Linked DNA regions of Homo sapiens. The protein of the gene in region 2 purifies or fractionates together with the protein of the main gene of each other region. This does not show direct contact. Each region holds a gene or a part of one and is shown on either strand. Other genes may lie near its edges. The genes, in order: FLNC, KCTD13 and HSPB8.

Region 1 (3,651 bases), on a different chromosome or scaffold from region 2:
AGCTCCTCAATCCCCTCAAGGAGCCATTGGGACCCCGACCCAGCCCGAGGGCAGTGCTGTAGTGAGCAGTGCTGCAACTCAGGGCAGGGAACACTTGTCATCCCTGTGCATAACACCCCGTATAGCACTTAGGGTGGAGAGAATCATTCCTGGCTTGTAGACCAAGAAACTGAGGCAGAGAGGAGACAATGAGCCTGAGATTCTGGGGTGCCTCTGGTCACTGTGGAGCTGTGGTGCTGGCTGTCACTGCCCTCTGGGAGTCAGAACCACTGGCCATACTTCCCTTATGATCCCCCAGCCCCACCCTCACGACCCTGGGCTCTGGCACTCACTTGGCCCCTTGACCGTGACCTTGAGCTCCCCGCTGCCGGCACCCTTGGTAAACACCTTGAAGTCAGCCACCTCTTTCACGCGAACACCCTTGGGCTGCAGGCCTCGCCCAGAGGCGCGGCAGGCGTTGGGGTTACAGGCTAGGGGAGGAAGAGAAAGGAGGTTGGGGGTGCTGAGGGGCCTTGGACCACTAGCCCCCACCTCCCTGTGCACAGTCCTTCTAACCCCTCCCAGGCACAGGCAGTGGCCCACGGCCCTGCTCTGGAGCCCTTTGTGTCCCCAGCACAACCGGGGCTGCCGGGCTGGAGCTGGCTACAGGCCCCAGATCAGGCAGGTTACAAGAAAGTTTCCGAGCCAGTGCCACTGGGGAAATGCATGGCAGAGCCTGGGCTGAGAGTGGGCTCAGAGAGACAGGGAAGGCCCCTTTACCCAGCCCAAGGCCATCCATCTAGAGCCCTCTGGGCCTCTCAGGGCACCAAAGCAACCTTAGGATCTAAGTCATGCCACAAAACATCCAGCAATGCCACAGAACAAGGGCTACTTCATAGAACTCGAAGCCTGCCATACAACACAGGCAACGTGTGGACATCAGCCTACCACAGACCGTGGCCAGTGGCAATGAGCCCAGGCCTTGCTATGGAACACAGGCAAAGGAATGGGAATCTCAGCCTGCCACAGAATCCAGAAAAATGGCATGGGACCCACAGGTGCTACGAAACAGGACACGACACATATTCCAGGACTACCATGACCATAGGCGATGGCACTGCCCAAGGGGTACCACGGAACACAGGCAATGGCTCAGAGCCCAGATTTCATCATAGAAATCACCAGGCAAGTGGCAAAGACACTAGACCTGCCACAGAACACAGACAACGGCATGGAACCTGGGGCCTGCCACAGAATGCCAAGGAAGGGGGGGCGATTCCACACGGCCCGGGCCATGCCACACAGCACAGGTGAGGCCAGTCAGCTGCGGCCATGCCTGGCCCCGCCTCCACTGGAGAGCATTAATGTGGCATCACTCTCGGCCTGGTGGACGATGGGCACTGAGTGCAGGGAGAGAACAAGTGGGGCAGTCACCACCTGAGGGCTTGGCATGCAGGCAGTACTCCCTAGATATGCCCCCACCCATACAGCCCCGTCACTTCCGCTCAGCCCTCCCAGGGTGGCACATGTTCTGGGACCCTTCACTGTGGCCTCCCAGCTGTGCTCTTAGGAACTCCAGCCACCTTGGGGGTGGGATGGAGGACTCAGGGAGGGGGTCTCTGCAGACCCCCGCCCCAGCTCTTCCTCCTGCCCCTTGCAAGCCTCTGGCTTTGGTAAGGGCTACCGTGGGGAGCAGTGAAGGGCCCTTACCTTCCGACACATGGACAGGGAAGGGACTGCGGGTGATGGGGGCACCCGCAAAGGCCACATGCACGGTATGTGGCCCCTCCATGGCAGGTCTGTATGTGCAGCGGAACGTGCTGTCACCCTTGTCCTCCAGGGCCACCTCCACTGTGTCCCGCCGGCCCTGTGGGTCCACGATCACCACAGCAACATCGCCAGTGCCGGCCCCTGCCGAAAACAGAGGCTGTCAGCACCACTCTGGACACACACAGCTGCCCCGGTGCCCTCACCCTGAGGCTGCCCACCCTCTGGCTGGCATCCCTGTCCCAGCCTCCCCCCACCCCCACACAGCCCCACATGGTCAGGGGCTTTCCACCTGCACCCCCTGGGGCCCGTCCTACCCGCAGTGTAGATGTCAAAGTAGGTGGGTTTGTTGGCCACATTGCCCACAGGTTCCAGGCCAGGGCCACGGGCTGACACCTTGTTGGCATCTCCCAGGGCCATGCCCACGTTCACCTCAAAGGGACTGCGTTCAATGTTCTGGCCAGCAAAGAGCACGGTCACCTAGGGGTCAGAGGTCAAAGGTTAGCTTCTAGGGGAGAGCAGTCCTGAGAGGGGGCAGAGGGGCACAGCCAGGCCAAGGAGGGTGAGAGGCGGGCAGCTGGGGCTCTGGGCAGGCGCGAGGTACAGGCTGAGAGAGGGGTCCATGCAGCCGGAACCAAGGATGTGAAGAGCAGCGCAGGCAGGGGGGCCTAGAGGGAGATACCTTGTGTAACCCAGCGACCTTGGGCACATAGGAGACAGCATAGGTGCGATCCTTGTCATTGTTGGGAACCACCTTAGCCTATTAGGAAGGAAAAAGATTGGAAGCCTCTCCAATGACCATAGCCCCTCCTGACCCCACAGTGCCTTATGCACCCCAGCCCCACTCAGCCCCCATGGTGACACCTTCCCCAGACTGCACAGCACAGTGTGTGGCTCTGGCAGTCACCTCCGGGCCATTCCTGTTGTTGGCCCCACGCTCTCTGGTTCCAATCCCAAGTGAATCCCTCTGTCCCCAGCGGCCTCTGCATACCTCCTCGGTGTGGCCTTCAGGGTCCTCGATGTAGACCAGCACCTCGCCCACGCCCGCGTCCACCGTCTGCACGGTGAAGTGGGCAGGCTGCAGCACGGTGTTGCCCTGTGGCTCGATGCCTACGGGGCAGGAGCAGAGCCCAGGTTACTCAGGGAGAGCCTACATGTGCCCAGCTGCCCAGGAGGGCCGCCAGGGGCTCACACATACCAGGCCCATAGGCGATGGCTTTCTTGGGGTTCAGCTGCTTGGATCGAACAGGGGCACCAGGTTTGAGCTTGGCCTTGGGGAACTGGGACAGGTAGGTCATAACAGAATGCTCATCCACGTTGGGGTCCACAATCTCCTCAGGGGCAATGACCTGCGATGGAAAGGAGTGATGTCACATGGCGCCCTCTTTTCCCAGCAGCCCCAGTCTCCCCCTGCACCCTGGCCAGGTAAACTTACAGACCCAACCTCTGCCCCTGCCCCCTTTCCCCCCTGCCCCATCTGCGCATGTACCTGGGGCACCCCAAGCCAGTCGTCGGCCTGCTGCATGGCCTCCCGGGCGTTCTCCACGGGCTGGTTGGGGTCCCAGGCCTCCCAGTCGGGGCAGAGACCTGGAGAGGTGATGGAGGGAGACGATGGTGAGGGGCAGCCAGCCGGCCAGGATGCAGGGCATTTGTTCACCCAACACCCTCAGAGGCTGTGGCTTTACACCCCTTCCCACCAGCTCTAGGCCTTGACCAGCCAGGTTCCTGCTGACCCCATCAGCTTCGAGGCCCCTCACCACGTAGGAGCAGGACAGCCCTCTCCACCACCAACAATGAAGCCTTTCTGCCCTGGCTGACGCAGCCTGGCACCAGCCCTGCTGGCCGGCCTCCTGCCTGCCCAGGCCCCAGCTCAGACCTTGAACCCCAAACCCTGGGAGGGTACCC
Region 2 (3,651 bases):
GCTGGTCATGAACTCCCGAACTCAGGTGATCAGCCCGCCTCAGCCTCCCAAAGTGCTGGGATTACAGGCGTGAGCCACTGCACCAGGCCTATCAGTTCATTTTCTACACAGCAGTTAGTGTCTGACTTTTTCTAACTTTTTGTATTTGTTTATGATCTGTCTCTTCCCACCTAGGAATAACTACCTAGTATACAGCTGATGCTCTGTATTTGTTGAATGAATGAACATATTTGTTGAGTGAATGAACTTCATTGGGTGGGATGACGTTGGAGAAAGAAATCTGAAGCAAACCCATGGGCTTCTTTCTCTTCTGTCTTCTAGAATCTTCATGCCAAAATCCCTCTCACTTCTCCCAACCTTGAAAACTCAATGCGCAATTCTAATACAAATTCCAGATTTGTTTTTTGCAGAAACTCATAAGACTCTCTAAAATTAACAGAGAATAATAAAAGTCTACAATTACTGAGGCCATTTTTTTTTTTTTTTTTTTTTTGAGACAGGGTCTTGCTGTCATCCAGGCTGAGTGCAGTGGCATGACCACAGCTTACAGCAGCCTTGACCTCCTGGGCTCAAGCCATCCTCCCAAACTTAGGTCAGTTTTTAAAAATAAGAGCAAAGAGGAAAGGCCGACCCTGCCAGATATTAAGATAGGCTGCAAAGCCACAACAGTGAGAACGGTATCAGTTCGGGCACAGAAACAAAAATACCTGAGAAACACAACAGAGCGATCAGAAACAGACCACTGTGTATATGAGAATTGGTATTTTTAAAAAGACACCACAAATGTGCGAGGGGAATTACGGAGTATGAATTCGTTATCTATCACTGTGTAACAAACTGCCCCCAATTTAGGAGCTTAAATTAACAATATTTATTACTTCTGTTTCTGAGGGTCAGGATCTCAGCAGTGGCTCGGCTGGGTGGCTCCGGCACAGGGTCTCTTCTGAGGCTGTGGCCAAGATGTCAGTGGGGCTGTGGGCATCAAAGGCATGACCGCCCCTAGAGGATGCACTCTGAGAAAGCTTGTTCATGTGGCTGGCAAGTTCGCACTAGCTGCTGGCAGGAAACAACAAATCCCTGCCATGTAGATCTCTCCACAGGGTTGCTTGAGTATCCTCGCAGCATGGCAACTGGCTTCTCCAGAGCAAATAATTCCAGAGAGGGCAAGGTGGAAGCCTCATTGTCTTTTTTATTTTTGAGATGGAGTCTCACTGTGTCGCCCAGGCTGGAGTGCAGTGGCGTAATATCGGCTCACTGCAACCTCCGCCTCCCAGGTTCAAGTGATTTTCCTGCCTCAACCACCCAAGTAGCTGGGATTACCGAGGTGTGCCATCACGCCCAGCTAATTTTTGTATTTTTAGTAGAGACAGGGTTTCACCATGTTGGCCAGGCTGGTCTCAAACTCCCGACCTCAGGTGATCCACTCGCCTCAGCCTCCCAAAGTGCTGGGATTACAGACGTGAGCCACAGCGCCGGGCCCCTCCATTGTCTTTTATGACCTAGGTCTGTTGGTCCTATCCAGTGAGGAAGGAGATGACACACAGGAACGAGCACCAGGGGACGAGAATCATCAGGCTGCCTTGGTGGCTGGCTCCACAGGCCACCGCTGGCTCTCAGTGATTTCCCCCCTCCCACATGCCAAATATACTCACCACCTTCCAGGATCCCCCATCATCCCATTACAGCATCAGCTCAAAGTACAGAATCTCATCATCTCAGTCAGGTCCAGGTGGGGATGTGGCTCTAGCATGCAGTTCCGTAACTATGGCTCCTTAAGTGCATTTCTTTTTTTTTTTTTTTTTTGAAATGGAGTCTTGCTCTGTCTCCCAAGCTGAAGTGCAGAGCCACCACCATCTCACCTCACTGAAAACTCTGCTTCCCAGGTTCAAGTGATTCTCTTGCCTCAGCATCCCAAGTAGCTGGGACTACAGGCATGCACCACCATCCCAGCTAATTTTCTTTAGTAGAGACGGGATTTCACCATGTTGGCCAGGCTCGTCTTTAACTCCTGACCTCAGGTGATCCACTTGCCTTGGCCTCCCAAAGTGTTGGGATTACAGGCGTGAGCCACCGCATCCAGCCCTTAAGTGCATTTCCTATCTGCAGACCTGTGAGCTAAAGAGACAGGTCATCTCCACACTCCCAGTGTGCAGTGGTAGAGGCAGGCACAGGATAACCAGTAAGGACATTCTTGCTCAAAAGCAGGGGAAGCCGGGCGTGGTAGCGTGTGCCTGTCATCCCAGCTACTCAGGAGGCCAAGGTGGGAGGATTACTTGAGCCCAGGAGTTCGAGACCAGCCTGGGCAACATAGCAAGACTCTGTCTCAAAAAAAAAAAAAAGTGGGGCAGGGGACAGGAGGCACATATAAGTCATACATATAAGTCACTGGTGTGTGGAAATTCTGTAATCCAGTTGGAGAAATGCTAGGAACTCTTTGATGCCTACTCCTGTTCATGAATGATTCTCCATGGCTCTCCCTGAGTCGTCCCACCTCTTCCATGAAAGATGTTTGCAGCTCCACAGTTTCATCTGCCTGCTTCCTGCCTGTAAAAGTTTGGGTGTGCAAAGCCGTCTTGTCCTTTTGCACTGGCTCTGTCCCTTTCAGTCCAAGCTGGCAGTGTCTCTGCCAATATAATTCTCTTCATAACTTATTGGGTATCTTGCATGTCTTAGGGTTCACTACATTAGAAAAAAGCCACACCTAGAAATCTCTGCAAGTGGCCAGGCACAGTGGCTCACGCCTGTAATCCCAGCACTTTGGGAGGCCGAGGTGGGTGGATCACCTGAGGTCAGGAGTTTGAGACTAGCCTGACCAACATGGTGAAACCCCATCTCTACTAAAAATACAAAAATTAGCTGGGCGTGGTGGTGGGCACCTGTAATCGCAGCTACTCAGGAGGCTGAGACAGGAGAATCACTTGAACCCAGGAGGAGGAGGTTGCAGTGAGCTATCTCAAAAAAAAAAAAAAGAAAAGAAAAAGAAAAAAGAAAATCTCTGCAAGGTAAGCCCTTCTCTACTTTGGGCTTGTGCTGAGACGCTGAAAGACAACACCTTTAACCTTCTCAGAAGCGTGATTATTATTTCATTCGACTGGAAGTCCCCTCTGAGGCATCTTGTTGGTATTTCTGAGGTCTTAACAAAGGACTTTTTCATCACATCCTCAGCTTGACCTTTAGACCACATTTCCCTGTATTTAATGCCTTGTATTTAATCTTTGCACGGAAGCCATTTGTTAATTTTAACATCACTTGTTATCTGGAAAGGCTGGGAATTTTCAAACCCAACAATTTCAGGCTCTTTTTCATTTAAGTGTTTTTTTTCTTTAACTTACTCTCTCCTCTTCAGTTTTACTATAAGCAGCAAGAAGCCAGGTGGCACCTTCAACATTCTGTCTGGAAAGCTCCTTAGCTAGACCATCCGTTCCTTAGGTATATTTCCTACCCTCCACACTAATGCAGGAGACAGTGTTGCTAAACTTTCTGCCGCTACACAAGGATCTCCTTTCCATCAGTTTCCAATAGCATTTTCCTAACTGTTCTTCAAGCCCTTATTGCAGCTGTCTTAAAGGTCACTGGACTCTTATTAACAGACTTTCTCACCTTTTTTCTTTTAATTTTTTTAGAGACAAGGTCTCACTATATTGCTCAGGC
Region 3 (3,309 bases), on a different chromosome or scaffold from region 2:
CCCCAATGAGATCACTAATATGTCCTCACAGTTTTAATAGTTTGTTGAAGAAACCAAATTCTCAATAGTCTCATTCACCCAAAGCAATCCAAAAATCATAAAAATACCTTATTAGAAGTTGGACCAGATTTAGGTTTAGAAATTCCATCTTCGATGCTTTCTCACTTGTTGAGCTTGTCATTTGATTTCCCCCAAGTCTCTGTTTAGTGATCTGTAGAATGGGCATATTAATTCTTACCTCTTAATCATCCTCTTACAATACTCCAACCAAGTATTGTCTATAACTGAGTTTTAAGAACAAGATAATTGGCTGGGCTCGGTGGCTCACGCCTGTTATCTCAGCACTTTGGGAGGCTGAGGTGGGTGGATCACAAGGTCAGGAGTTCGAGACCAGCCTGGCCAACATGGTGAAACCCCATCTCTACTAAAAATACAAAAATTAGCCAGGCATGGTGGTGGGTGTCTGTAATCCACACTACTCAGGAGGCTGAGGCAGGAGAATTGCTTGAACCTTGGGAGGCGGAACTTGCAGTGAACCAAGATCGCGCCACTGAACTCCAGCCTAGGTGACAGAGTGAGACTCTGTCCCAAAAAAATAAAAGGAAGAACAAGATAATAATGATCTGCTAAGTGATTGTATTAGTCTGTTTTCACACTGCTGATAAAGACATACCTGAGACTACATAATTGATATATATATGAAAAAAAGAGTTTTAATGGACTCACAGTTCCACATGGCTGGGGAGGCCTCACAATCATGGCAAAAGGTGAAAGGCACGTCTTACATGGCAGCAGACAAGAGAGAAAATGAGAACCAAGCAAAAAATCTTATAAAACCGTCAGATCTCGTGAGACTTATTCCCTACCATGAGAACAGTATGGAGGAAACTGCCCCCTACCCATGATTCAATTATCTCCCATCAGGCCTCTCCCACAACGTATGGGAATTATGGGAGCTACAATTCAATATGAGATTTAGGTGGACACAGCCAAACCACATCAGAGATACTTAGGGTATGAACAAAATCAAGGCTTATTTTGAATACCATCGAGTATGTTGCCATCTGAAATCTACATGTGGCCAGCTTGGCCCCTTTTATCCACCAAGGTACCTAGTGCTTGCATCACCATTAATGCATTTTGTAGTGAAGCACTCTCCAGCAAGCACATGTCAGATGAAAATGTGTTGCCTGTTATGATAACACCTTACTTGCGCTCTATAAAGGGATGGTAGTGGTGCCATTTCTGCTAGTAATTGTGGTCAGTAGTGGGTATTAAGGTGATGACTTCAACCTGGGACCAAATATGTGGGCCACAGCTCTCTTTTAAGTTAAGAACTACTGTTCAAACAGCATTTTACCATTTGCAAAGCATACTCAGACTCTGAAGTTCAAATACTCTACAAGTTCAGTATTATTATCCTCATTTTGCAGATGAGAAAACAAGCTCAGAGCAACTGAATAATCTTCCCAAGACCACACAGCTAGAAAGGGGTAGAGCCAGGATTCAAACCCAACATTGTATGTCCCCAAAGCCTAAGCTCTTATCAAAAATATTTCCTCTCAAGTGAATAAAAGAATGTTTAAGCAATATTAACAACAATAAATGAATAAAATCGTGTGTTTCTCCTAGGCTTCCTGCAGAGGTGGATCCTGTGACAGTATTTGCCTCACTTTCCCCAGAGGGTCTGCTGATCATCGAAGCTCCCCAGGTCCCTCCTTACTCAACATTTGGAGAGAGCAGTTTCAACAACGAGCTTCCCCAGGACAGCCAGGAAGTCACCTGTACCTGAGATGCCAGTACTGGCCCATCCTTGTTTTGTCCCCAACCCTAGGGCTTCTCTGATTCCAGGATACATTACTTTAGCTGAACTCAGATTTAGTGCAAGTAAAATGTTAGAGGGTGCGGGGGTGAGGACTGACCACAGATTCCCTGGATAGTGTAGTGGTAGATTTCTCCACAGGATAGCGCAATTGGCAAATCATGCTTGGTTGTGTTAGGCCAAAATACTAGTTTTGCTTTCTTTACCTTTTCTATCTTGATGAAAATGTTGCACATTCTATAGTTGCAAAACACATAAAAGGGGACTTAACATTTCACGTTGTATCTTACTTGCAGTGAATGCAAGGGTTACTTTTCTCTGGGGACCTCCCCCATCACCCAGGTTCCTACTCTGGGCTCCCGATTCCCATGGCTCCCAAACCATGCCGCATGGTTTGGTTAATGAAACCCAGTAGCTAACCCCACTGTGCTTCCACATGCCTGGCCTAAAATGGGTGATATACAGGTCTTATATCCCCATATGGAATTTATCCATCAACCACATAAAAACAAACAGTGCCTTCTGCCCTCTGCCCAGATGTGTCCAGCACGTTCTCAAAGTTTCCACATTAGCACTCCCTAAGGACGCTGGGAGCCTGTCAGTTTATGATCTGACCTAGGTCCCCCCTTTCTTCTGTCCCCTGTGTTTAAGTCGGGATTTTTACAGAGGGAGCTGTCTCCAGACAGCTCCATCAGGAACCAAGCAAAGGCCAGATAGCCTGACAGATAGGCTAGTGGTATTGTGTATATGGGCGGGACGTGTGTGTCATTATTATTTGAGTTATGCTGTTGTTTAGGGGTAAATAACAGTAAATAATTAATAATAATAATAATAATAATAAAGGAGCTGACGTTCTTAGCCTTGTGTGGTTCTTTTAATGAGGAACTAAATGTAATACCACCTAGATATACAACATCAGTTAGCAATGCTGTGGCTTAAAGTAATGTTGCGCGGAGCCGCGATGCCTAAAGGAGGGAGAAAGGGAGGCCACAAAGGCTGGGCGAGGCAGTATAGGAGCCCTGAGGAGATCGACGTACAGCTGCAGGCTGAGAAGCAGAAGGCCAGGGAAGAAGAGGAGCAAAAAGAAGGTGGAGATGGGGCTGCAGGTGACCCCAAAAAGGAGAAGAAATCTCTAGACTCAGATGAGAGTGAGGATGAAGAAGATGACTACCAGCAAAACCGCAAAGGCGTTGAAGGGCTCTTCAACATCGAGAACCCCAACCAGGTGGCACAGACAACCAAAAAGGTCACACAACTGTATCTGGATGGGCCAAAGGAGCTTTCGAGGAGAGAACGAGAAGAGATTGAGAAGCAGAAGGCAAAAGAGCGTTACATGAAAATGCACTTGGCCGGGAAGACAGAGCAAGCCAAGGCTGACCTGGCCCGCTGGCCATCATCCGGAAACAGCGGGAGGAGGCTGCCCGGAAGAAGGAAGAGGAAAGGAAAGCAAAAGATGATGCCACATTGTCAGGAAAACGAATGCAGTC

Evidence for each region.
Region 1: the proteins of KCTD13 (region 2) and FLNC purify together in Homo sapiens (affinity purification with mass spectrometry; 3 studies listed by BioGRID and IntAct, with this or other methods). This does not show direct contact.
Region 3: the proteins of KCTD13 (region 2) and HSPB8 purify together in Homo sapiens (affinity purification with mass spectrometry; 3 studies listed by BioGRID and IntAct, with this or other methods). This does not show direct contact.

Annotation. Positions count from the first base shown.
Region 1 is NC_000007.14:128,836,842-128,840,492, reverse strand, and holds part of FLNC (filamin-C), read right to left. Parts: intron 3,334-3,651; coding exon 3,236-3,333; intron 3,096-3,235; coding exon 2,945-3,095; intron 2,857-2,944; coding exon 2,738-2,856; intron 2,507-2,737; coding exon 2,429-2,506; intron 2,227-2,428; coding exon 2,064-2,226; intron 1,891-2,063; coding exon 1,690-1,890; intron 471-1,689; coding exon 333-470; intron 1-332.
Region 2 is NC_000016.10:29,912,651-29,916,301, forward strand, and holds part of KCTD13 (BTB/POZ domain-containing adapter for CUL3-mediated RhoA degradation protein 1), read right to left. Parts: intron 1-3,651. UniProt on the Homo sapiens protein: Substrate-specific adapter of a BCR (BTB-CUL3-RBX1) E3 ubiquitin-protein ligase complex required for synaptic transmission.
Region 3 is NC_000012.12:119,192,067-119,195,375, forward strand, and holds the end of HSPB8 (heat shock protein beta-8), read left to right. Parts: intron 1-1,632; coding exon 1,633-1,792; 3' UTR 1,793-2,680; downstream 2,681-3,309. UniProt on the Homo sapiens protein: Involved in the chaperone-assisted selective autophagy (CASA), a crucial process for protein quality control, particularly in mechanical strained cells and tissues such as muscle. Displays temperature-dependent chaperone activity.